3 linked regions of the Homo sapiens genome follow. The protein of the gene in region 3 interacts with the protein of the main gene of each other region in a pairwise test. Each region holds a gene or a part of one and is shown on either strand. Other genes may lie near its edges.

Region 1 (3,748 bases), on a different chromosome or scaffold from region 3:
TTCACTCAGTTGGCCAGGCCGGGGCGAAGCACCACGACCAGCAGTGAGGAGTCCACAGATGGGTGTCTGCCCAGCATCCCTGGAGTTACAGCTGAAGGGAAGGCGAGGGAGGCTCAGAAGGCCCAGAGGACAGCCTTGCAGCCGGAAAAAACCCAAAGCAAAGATCAGCTCAGCATTTCCGATAGGCAGAGTGCTGTTTTGGGTATTTCATTATGAGTTAACATATTTATTCTCATGAACTTCTTATGAAATAAGTTTGGTTGTCATCTCCACTTGACGGATGAGGACCCTGAGGTGAAGAAACTTGCCCAAGGTCACAGCTAGTGAGCAGCAGATCCATGATTCCAAATCCAGGCTGTTTAACCCCAGAGGCTTTGCTTTTAACTGTGCCATTTTTCTGCTTCTTGCAAGTTGAGACTGAAGAGAGCCATGAAGAAGACTCTTACTGGGGACTCTGAAATGACACCTTAGCCGGGGGAGGAGTGGAGCCTTGAGAGTGAGGGCAGTTGAGTACTCGGGTCTGGGACTTAGAGCTTCCAAGATTTCTACCACCTCCCACTCCCCTCGGGTTTGTAAAGCTGCCTCCATTTGCATTGGGAGTGCGGGGGGGCTGCCTGGGGGACTGTGGCGATTGTCCTCAGGCTATTGGCTGAGAGTGGTATGCCACTGACTTATTCCTCCAAGAGACATTTCCAGTACCCTCCATCCCTGCCCCCTGTACTACACACTGGTGACCTTCCCCCTCAAAAACAAAACTCAAACTCTGTCCCTGATGCTCATGGTCTACTGAAAACAGAATTACAGCTGTCTGTGAATGACCTCTGACCAAGCTGGGGGGACACAGAGAAGGGACTTGTGACTTGCTTTGCCAGGGAGGTCCTGAGAGGCTGTCCAGGGAAGGTGACATTGAGGCCGGGACTTGAGCTGGCTGTTTGAAGGCAGGAAAAATGGCAGGGCAAGGACTGGAGTCCTTCGCCTTCCTGGGGGACGTTTATTCCACATGCCTCGGGAAATCTGAAATGGCCTTGGAGAGCATTTGCTGGGGGTTGGGGGTGGGCGGAAGGGGACAGAGAGCATTGCCACCGACAGGCGGGGCGTCCCAGGGCCTCTCCCCAGGAGCGGATGAGCTCAGACGCGGCTCACTCAGCTGTGTCCAGGCACAGCCGGTTTATGACCTAAGAGAATGACAACCCAGGAGCAAGTCGGGATGACAAAGACGCCCAGAAGGGCACGCGCTTTTATGTAACCGACCTCTGAGCTGGCGGATCTCAGGAGGTTGGCGCTCTGAGCTCAGGCGCGGAGAAAGGACGGCGCCCCTGCCTTACTCTCTTATAAGTACGAGGGGACAGCAACGCGACATAACTTAGAGAAGTCCAGGAAGCTTTAGAGAGCAGGGCGGTCCCGCTGCTATTCCTCAGAGCGCGACTGGGGCGAACTGGGGCGCCCTTCCCAGCTCCAGCTCGGCCCTTGTCCCCTCTTCCCAGGATCACTCGCTGGGTGACCTTGGGCGAGCCACTTGACTTCTCTGAGCCCCAGTTTCCCAGTCCGTGCATCTGAAAGGCTGTAATAGCGTCGTGGGGCTCCCCACTCGGCCCTCAGGGCCAAAGGTGGGCGCCGGACACGCGGGAGGGGCCCTTGGACGCACCCCCTCTCGCAAACGCCCGGTTAGTCCCGGCGGACTCGCAGTGGAGAGCGGCCCCAGGAGGCGGCGGGCGGCGGGGCGGTGGGCGCCAGTGCGCAGGCGCGGCGCGGCAGGGCGGGGCGGCGGGCGCGGGGCGGGGCGGGGCGGAGCCGGGCGGGGCGGGGCCGGCGGCAGGCGCTGGGCGCTCGGCGCGGTGGCTCAGAGTGCGCGGGGCGGCGCGCGGCGTGCAGGTCGCAGCTGTGGCTCGGGTGCTGGCAGGTGCTGGCGGGACTGGCGGGGATCGCCGTGGACTGCCTCAGGGGCGCCGCAGCCCGCTCGGCCCGAGGGCCCGCCTAACCGCGCCGCCCGCGCCCGCTCCTCCTCGGCCCGCGCCCGGAGCGCGGGGGCCGCCGGCGCTGGGTACTCGGCGGCCACCGGGGATCGGGGCTGAGCGGTCGGTTCCCGCCCCCGTGCCGCCGCCGCCGCCTTCCGGCCGACCGCCCGGCTTGGCCGCTGCTGCCGCGTCTGGCCCCCGGGTCCCCGCCGCTGGGGGCGCGGGCGGGGTCGGGGGTTGCCGGGCGCCGCCCCCCGTGCGCCTGGAGTCCACATCCCGGGCCCGGCGGCCGGCGAGCATGGAGGAGAAGTACCTGCCCGAGCTGATGGCGGAGAAGGACTCCCTGGACCCCTCCTTCACGCACGCCCTGCGCCTGGTGAACCAAGGTGAGGCGCCGGCCGTTAACTGCCGGCCGGCGGCGGTTGGGGGCCGGGTGGAAACGCGGGGGCCCAGGGGGCCCCTCCGTGCCCTCTGCTGTCAGCGGACGCGGCGGAGACGGAGGCCCGGGTGGCCCCCGGGGTCGTTTGCACGGGGACCTGGGAGGCTGTGGGACACCTAGGGGAAGACCCTGATGTGAATTTTGGGGACTTGGAAGGAGAAGGCTGGGGCGCATGGGTGAGACTTGAAGGAAATCTTTGGGGACTCGGGCACACCCAGGGGAAACTTCTGGGTGGGGGACAGCGACCATCTGGGGGCTTCGTTGGGAACGAGGTTGAATTATGTCATGGAAGGGGAGCGTGTTGGACTCGGGGAAGTAGGGCGTTTGGTTTGTCTAAGGTACTGGAGAAAAAGCTGGAGGAAAATGGAAGGACTTGAGGGACTCAAATGCAGAAGAGGTGAAGGGAACAGGTGCTTGCATTGTTAGCGAAGTTTGGGGACCTTGGAAGAGGGTTGGGGTCAGACCCCAGCACCTGAGAGGAGAGGAGCTCCGTGGTCCCAGGGGAGGAGCCCAGTTCCCCCTCCCAGCCCTTTGTCTCTCCTGTGTCCAGGCTCCAACAGCCCTGGCGGGGCAGTCAGCCCTCCCAGGGGATGGGCAGCCCATGCCAAGCCTTGCAGGCTGGCCCTTGGAGAAGTCAGTAGGGGAGAAGAGGCCGGCAAAAGAGCACCGTTCCGGAGGGCGTTGGGTTGGGTGACCCTCATTGGTGGCTGGCTTGAGGTTCGGAATAGTGGTGAAGGGAGTCCTTGCCATTTTCACACGACTCCAGCCAGCTCAGGGTGTGAAAGATCCTAGGAAGTACTGCGGGTCAGGGATACAGAGATTTCTGGAGGCACGCCTACCCGGGACAGTGTTCCCCTGGCTTTTTCCTCCTGTGGCTTCCTGAATCATCTGCTGGCATGCACGGTAAATTAAGCCTTCCTTCCTGGGAGCAGTCTCCTACTTTTCCTGGAATATGTGTTTCAGATGAAGATGGGTGTGGGTGCCACTGGTCTGTCTTTTCTCTGGGAAATGGCAGCAACATGATCTGGTCAGATCTGTTACCTTTTGCAGGAATTACTGTGCACTGACAGTCTGTGGTTCCCTAGATGAATCGGATCTGCTGCTCTTAGTGCTCGCCCTGGCTTTTTTATTGTTGGAAGTGAAAGATGAGGCAGACATATTCTATTTGTATATAGATACCTATATTTTAAAACAGTGACCTCCAGTTTTTGCCTGTTTCAACCAGTTCTTCAGAGTAGAGTGTGTGTGTGGTTGACCGATGGTGGAGGAGAGACTCTTTACTGTCTCCAAGAATTTAAGAATATTTGAATTGTTGAACAGAAATAGACTTATGGAGCTCCCTCATTTTATTTTA
Region 2 (3,748 bases), on a different chromosome or scaffold from region 3:
CATAAATTAAAAAATATAGCTAATGCCTATTTAAATCATATATTGAGGAGCAGAATTTATTCTTCCTTGGTACAACTAAGTCTCAAAAAAATCTTTTAATACTGAGGAGCTTGGGTAGAGGAAGTTATCCGTTTTAGTTTTTTGCTGTATGTAAGTCCATAACAAACTTAGCTACAAAACTGCATTGTAACCAATTTGATGATGAAGCAATTCATTATTAATGAAGCATTCATCTAAAAAAAATCTGCAGATGTTTTAAAAAGGCATGGGTAAGTAACTACAGATACCATAGGTGTCTTTAGTATTTAGATGGCATTATTATAACATAAATGGAGTAATTCGGTTAATAAAGTTCATGTGTCTTTTTTCAAAAAAAAACCTTTCAAAGCAATGCAAAAAACAAGACATATGTGTTCCTCTAGGAATGAAATCCCCTTTAACATTACAGGTACACAAAAGAAAATGCACACTTGGTAAAACAGTTGATCAATTATAGAGTGTTCCCAGGGACCAATATCTCACAGAGTACCCAATCATCACACTTCAAATAAATGTATAAGCACTTTAGCCTTTACTTACCACATTAACATACATATAAGAACATGCATAGTTTAATGCATAGGTTAATTCTAACACTTTCCATAGGATAGACTTTGATTAAAGGGTATCAAAAATCACTTCCTAAATGCAGCAAAAAATAAAAATAAAAATACCGATCTGTAGCTACGAAGCTCTTAGAACACTACATTGATCACCATTTACTTCCAAACTGCTTTCCCTTCCCTCTGCGAAGTGAAAATGTCCCTGTAGACCGCGTTACATACACTTTATGGTTTCTCTATCAATGATCCTAACAGGTCACATCGCCACTGCCATTAGATCTCCGTAGCTTTGGTCTTCTCCAAATTAAGACGTGGAGAAGGAGCACTGCTGTCCGCCCCAAGAACGGGGTCTGTCCGCCCGAGCTCTAAGGCGAGCATCTTCAGGGGGACAGTTTCTGCGAAGGCGGGGAGAGGAGTCCCTCCCCAACTTCACTCCCCTAATCAAGCCGCGGGTGAGATAGGCAGCCGGCGGTTTGTGCCCATCTGTGGGGGCAAGTCCTACCTTCTGCCAAAAGGCGCGACGCATGCACAAAAGATGGATCCAGGCTATCTTTCTCTGCCATCAGCTCAGGCAAATATTTCTCCTCTTCCATAGCGCGGACTTCGGATTGTCCCCGGGCGAAGCGCGAGGTTCCGCTCGCTCGGACGCAGGCAGGGTCTTGGGGCAGCGCCTGGCTCCCGCGCTGCTCCTCCTCCGCGCGGCGAGGGATCTCTGTGCGTCCTCACTGGCCCATGCACCCAGCACCTGCGACTCCCGCCGTCGGGCTGCGTGGCCCCGCGCCCACACCTGCCCGTCCCTTCCGTCGTCCCTCGCTCGCGCAGAGCCCCGGCTCACACCAGCGGCCTTAACTGGAGAGGCGGGAACAGGACGCGGCCCACCTCCGCCAACCACTCATTGGTGGTGGTGCCAGGAGAGGCGGGGCGCTGGCAGAAGGCCGCGGGCTCTCATTGGGCGGTAGCGCAAGTCGGGTGGCCTGACTGGCAGGAGGCAGCTGCAGAGGGGAAGGGAGCTCGGAAGATGCAAACGCTTTCTTCTTGCGCCCAAGCCTTCCCTGGCTATTAGGCATGCCCAGTTTTGTGGAGTTCTCTGTGTCTTCAGCTAAGGCGCAGAGGAGAGAGAGCGCGGGAAAAGCGCAGGTTAAAGAGAGAGGTCTGAGTACAAGTGGACAGGGGAGATGGAGATGAGAAGTGAGCCACCCGAGAGGGTGGAAAAGCGCCAGGGAAAGTCTCAGGAAGGTAGATGGGACTTCACCTGCGTCCCTAAGGCACAGGTGTCTCCTTTCCCTCACACAGCTCAGGCGCACTCCAGTTGTGCAGGAATCAGCAGCGCACTGGGTCTGGAAATACAATGAAGACTGCATGTGATCGGCAGCTGGTATTTCCGATGACCTACATCTCAGGGACGCAGTAGGATGTTCATTGATAAACAAATAAAGCGGCTCGAAGAAATATTGTGCAGAGACATGATTGAGGTGTACAATCATTAGGATATTGAATTAGTTCTGGTAACCTATCCGTGCCTCCTTTCCCCAGACCCTATCTGTGGAAGGGAGGTTGGGAGGGGCTGAATTTAAAAACCAAAAACAATATGATTCATTAGTCACAGTTTGTGAAAGAATTGGGAAGACATGTAGAAGAAAGAAGAGACTAGAAAATAGGTAACCACGTTTGCTCTAATTTTCCCCTTTCTCCTAGTTTTAGATGTGCCAGTCTCTTTCACCAGGTACTGTTGCTGAGCTACTTTGTATTATCCCACCTCTATTTAAAGGAAAGTTAAACCCTCATGATATCACCAAGCGTGGAGGCAAAGCCCATCCTTCTTTTACCAATGCGGCTATAAAATGTAACTTGCATGCCTCAATCGCTAGGAAACAATCTTTCCCCAAGTCTTGGGTTCTCGTTTCATAAGTAGTCATTTCCTGATTCTTCTCTCCCCCATTATTTTTGGTGTGGAAGAATGAGGGCCAACTTTGCTACAAATAAAATGTGCTGAAATTTTTCCAACTTATCTTACTGTATTTAAATATTTTCCTTTTAATTTTTAGATAAATTCGGGAGATTAACTTTTATTTGTATAATGTTTAAATAACGTAACGTGCCTCACATTGATTATTTCAATACGTCCTCACAGAAGCACTCTGAAAAATGCCAGCCAAGTATTACTTTCTCTGTTTGTATAAATATGGAAACTGAGGCAAAACAGAGAAATCGTCTCATGTCTAGTTAATGCTGAAGTTGAGATTAAAATTCAATTCTATATTAGCACCATTTATATCCAGAATATACTGCTTCAACCTACCTTTCTGTGTGTTATATATTTAATTTATTTGTGCATGTGTGCATTCAACAAATGTTTATTGGATACTGAAAAGAGTCTAGGGACAGTACTTAAAATTGGAGAAACATTGGTGAATAAGATACATACACATTCATTCCTTGTCATCACAAAGATGTTTTCTAATGGGAGAAGATAAATAAAACCAAGTATACAAGAGGAATGGTAATTGTTGACTGCAATAAAGGTCAAGAATGAACCAAGGAGTTAAGAAAGAGAATACAAGGGAAGACATTAGTTTCTTTATTTTTGACTAGGGTAAACATACAATCTCGATAAGCAGCTGATATTTACGGTGAAAACTCATGGAAAAGAATGAACCAAGTGAGTACAATGTGCAAAGAAAGACATTCCAAGCAGGGGAACTTGCCCCTGAAAAAGCCCTGTGGTGGAAAGAACTGTGCTGTCTTTTGGAATTGACTGAGGTCAATGTGACTACTGTAATATGGGAAAGAATGGAATCAATAAGGGAGGGGGGATTGATGTGTACAAACACTGAAGATTTGATGAATGAAAATTATTTGGATTTTATTCTAAGTGTAATAGGGGACCATAAAGTATTGGTATCTTTCTGGATGTGCTTCTTAATCTCTTTCTGATTCTTATGTTACTTTCAAAGGAGCTATTATTTAGAATTGAGTATATATACAGAAAGTTCTTGCTATTTTATCTGTGTGCAGAATGTTTAGTAGTTGAAGGGTCATGCATCCTGCACCTGGTCTGCAACAGGGATATAAAGGGAAAATATGCTTCAAACTTAAAAGAGGTGGCTACGATTTGCTATGGTAGTAAAGGGTGAATACGATGCCAA
Region 3 (3,748 bases):
CACAACACTATCAACTAGTCTAATGATTTTTACGTGTACAATCTTTTCTTATTATTTCTTATTTTTAAGACGCACTTAATTAAATAGTATCTGTAAATCTAAGAAAGGTCGGAAGGGAAAACCAGGGTATTGGGCAAAAACGTTTCCATCAGCATCATATATTAATTTGAGTTCCTTAAAAGGAGTGGATAAATGTCTTCCACAGACACTTTATTCTCCTAAAGATCCTTCTTTACTCTCTACTCCCTGGAAGATTCAGTTCGTTCTCACAAAATATTGCCATTGGGCACTTTTATCAACTACAACAGACAAAGAGGCATCAGGATAGAGGGGAGAGGATCTTTCACAAAGCTCTAATCTCAGCCACGCACGGTGGCCCACGCCTGTAATCCCAGCACTTTGGGAGGCCGAGGCAGGCGGATCACCTGAGGTCAGGAGTTCGAGACCAGCCTGGCCAACGTGGTGAAACCCCGTCTCTACTGAAAAATACAAAAATTAGCTGTGCGTGGTGGCGGGCGCCTGTAATCCCAGCTACTCGGGAGGCTGAGGCAGGAGAATCGCTTGAACCCGTGAGGCGGAGGTTGCAGTGAGCCGAGACCGCGCCATTGCATTCCAGCCTGGGCGACAACAGCTAAACTCCGTCTCAAAAAAAAAAAAAAAAAAAAAAAAAACTAATCTCAGGAACGTCCTAATACAATTTATTTGAGAATTAGAAACGATCTTTGGAGTAAATACATATTTACAACACTTTACTTGTAAATGACAATGACATCGAGAAATCTTAAGCCAGCTAGAAAGTAAATCACATGGTGTCATCTCCGCTCAAAATGCTCCAACGGCTTCTCGTCTTATTCTGAGACTGACTGGGTCTGCACTCCAACTCCATCCCAACACATACACCCATCTCCGATTACCCTTCCCGCTGGTTCACCACTATCGGCTACGCCGGCCTCCTGAGGTTCTTAGAACATGCCGTGCACATCCCTGCCCGGGAATTTTGCACTTGCTGTCCCCTCTTACCTGTTCCACTCTTTGCTCGGATTTCTGTATTTATGACTTTTCAATTTCCTTCAAGTCTCGGCTCAGATGCCACTTCTCAGTGGAGCTTTTCTTGTTTAAAAATACAAGCCAGCCTCCCACACCTCTTCCCCCTTCCCTGTGTTATTTTTCTCCATAGCACTTATCACCTTCCAATGCGGGCGGGAGAAGCACTGCTCCTCAGGGGGGCGCGAAACCCCGAGCCGGGGGGCCTCCCCTCTCCCACGCTCCCGGCCCCCGCAGACTCACCAGGTTCCGCAGCTGGGCCGCCTGCTCCTTGTGATAGTCCAGCCGTCCCAAGGAGCAGGGCCGATACTTGTCCACCCAGAGGCTCATGGCAGCTCGAGTTCCCGGGGGCCTACGCTTGAAAATCCCGCGCGAGCGCGCGTCCTCCCCACAACGCAGAGACAAGTTTTCCCGCGAGCTCCAAATCTCGTGACGTCACTACCGGTCGCGGCCGCGTAAATGATTTTGGACGGAAAGGCTACGGGGGCCGTGTGCAGACAAAATCAGCTGCCGCGTCGATGCCCTCTAGTTCTGAAGTTCACTGCTTTATTTATTTTCTCTTTGTTCGCACCGTCTATTATATTCTAGAAATTATCAAGCGGAATTGAAAATGTGGTTCTGACCCTTTTGGCGTCACATCCAGATACCTCAGAGAAGACCGTTCCTTTCATTTATTCATTCTTTCATTCACTTAATTCATTCAACAAAAATTTACTAAATATCTGCTAGGTGTGGAACTCTGTCCTCGGCACTAGAATATATACATCTCAGGGTTTCACTCACTTGGCAGGTACCCAGTAAAGCTTCATTGGATGAATCGCTTGAAAATGTCTGATCTTCACTATCCTTTGTTACCTCTATTCCTCAATATTCTTATTGGATTAGAAACAAAAGAATCAAGAGCATGGAAAAACTACCCAAATGTGGTCTGTAGGGGAGAAGACACGAGGTTAATATGCATTCTAAGTCTAGAATATTTGAAAGCCCTCCAATTAAAATGTGTAGAAGCATCTGAACCCCTCAGAAAAATATTCTGCATATGAAGTTGATATGCAACTTTTGAAGTTCTCTTCAAATAGTGCCTCTCAAAATGCACTTTACTCATTGTACATAATATTAATTCCTTATTTAATTTATGCTTTTATTTTATGTATTATTAAGAACCCTAAGTCCTGCCATTTGATTGCAAGGTCTTACAGGCAGGAAATGATTTCCAAATATACTTAATAACCTTTCACCAAGGTGCCTCTTACTCATTTATTAATCAATAATTTATCATGTTCTTCTATGAATCGTCATATTACATGAATTACTCCTGCAGGTAAGGTATTATCCACACCACCAAGTATAAGATTTAATCCCTGTTCTCGAGAAACTTTCTATAATAAGCCTGGAAGGCTTCTGCCTCAGGGCCTTTGCAATTACTGTTTCCTCTTCCTGGACTATGTTTCTCCAGTCAGCAGAGTTGGGTCCCTCATTTCCTTCAGGATGTTGGCTCAAGTATTATCTCCTCACTGAGGCTTCCCTGACCACCCTATTTAATATTGCAAAAAAGCTTCATCTTCTTTATGCTTCTCTCCTTTGGAATTGAAATGGAGGAAGTGTTTGAAATGAGAAGGTAAAGGAAATCAGAAGCAGGGATACTGAATTGTGGTCTATGTGTATATCATAATCATAATGAATGATAATGGAAATAAGTACTGAGAGGAATAAAGAGAAGAACCAAGTGCTAGAATGATCAATAATTTGGCAAGAGTGACCACAGGCATGACAGACAACTTCAATAAGGAGCAGTGGTTGATGGTCTCTACCGTGAAGACATGTCTCTACCATTGAAGCACATGAAGACATGTGCTTCAATATTGTTGGGGGTTCTGAGGAAGGAGAAATAGTGTGGTGACCCAGGAAGTCCAGTTAAATTTGAATTTCAGAAGCTTTTTCATATGTCTATGGCAAAATTTATTACAAATGATTTTTTTTCTCATATAAGTATGTCCCTGGCAATATTTGAAATTGTAATAAATATTGCCAGGGACATACTTATATGAGAAAAAAAATCAGCCTTTATCTGAAATTCAAATGTAACCAGGGCCCTGTATTTATCTAGCAATTTTACTCCAGACTCTTGAATATATAGGATATGAGAAATTGCTACAGAGGAAGTAAAGTCCTCGGGGTTGGTAAACTACAGCTGCAATCACTTTAATGTTTAATGACTCTGGCCCTCAGGTATCTTAGCTCTTTTTTTTTTTCTTGAGATGGAGTCCCAGTCTGTCTCCCAGGCTGGAGTGCAGTGATGCGATCTCGGCTCACTGCAACCTCCACCTCCTGGGTTCAAGCGATCCTCCCACCTCAGCCTCCCATGTAGCTAGGGTTACAGTTGTGCACCACCACGCCCAGCTAATTTTTTGTATTTTTAGTAGAGACAGGGTTTTACCATGTTGACCAGGCTGGTCTCGAACTCCTGAGCTCAGGCAAGCCAGCTGCCTCGGCCTCCCAAAGTGCTGGGATTACAGTAGCGAGCCACCACGCCCGGCAATCATATAGTAATTGTAAGTTTAATTTTTTGAGTAACTGCCATACCGTTTTCCACAGTGGCTGCACCACTTTACATTCCCATGAGCAATGCAAAAAGATTCCAATTTCTCCACATCTTCACCAACCAACAACCTTTTTAAATTTTAGTCATTCTGGCAGGTTTACA

The links.
Region 1: the proteins of RFC3 (region 3) and KHDRBS3 interact in binary tests that used the Homo sapiens proteins (3 or more experiments, as listed by UniProt).
Region 2: the proteins of RFC3 (region 3) and KHDRBS2 interact in binary tests that used the Homo sapiens proteins (3 or more experiments, as listed by UniProt).

Annotation. Positions count from the first base shown.
Region 1 is NC_000008.11:135,455,614-135,459,361, forward strand, and holds the start of KHDRBS3 (KH domain-containing, RNA-binding, signal transduction-associated protein 3), read left to right. Parts: upstream 1-1,842; 5' UTR 1,843-2,253; coding exon 2,254-2,341; exon of another isoform or gene 2,342-2,362; intron 2,363-2,419; exon of another isoform or gene 2,420-2,566; coding exon of another isoform or gene 2,567-2,570; intron 2,571-2,930; exon of another isoform or gene 2,931-3,290; coding exon of another isoform or gene 3,291-3,297; intron 3,298-3,748. UniProt on the Homo sapiens protein: RNA-binding protein that plays a role in the regulation of alternative splicing and influences mRNA splice site selection and exon inclusion. Binds preferentially to the 5'-[AU]UAAA-3' motif in vitro.
Region 2 is NC_000006.12:62,284,754-62,288,501, forward strand, and holds the start of KHDRBS2 (KH domain-containing, RNA-binding, signal transduction-associated protein 2), read right to left. Parts: upstream 1,473-3,748; 5' UTR 1,196-1,472; coding exon 1,105-1,195; intron 1-1,104. UniProt on the Homo sapiens protein: RNA-binding protein that plays a role in the regulation of alternative splicing and influences mRNA splice site selection and exon inclusion. Binds both poly(A) and poly(U) homopolymers. Phosphorylation by PTK6 inhibits its RNA-binding ability.
Region 3 is NC_000013.11:33,815,805-33,819,552, reverse strand, and holds the start of RFC3 (replication factor C subunit 3), read right to left. Parts: upstream 1,405-3,748; 5' UTR 1,375-1,404; coding exon 1,288-1,374; intron 1-1,287. UniProt on the Homo sapiens protein: Subunit of the replication factor C (RFC) complex which acts during elongation of primed DNA templates by DNA polymerases delta and epsilon, and is necessary for ATP-dependent loading of proliferating cell nuclear antigen (PCNA) onto primed DNA.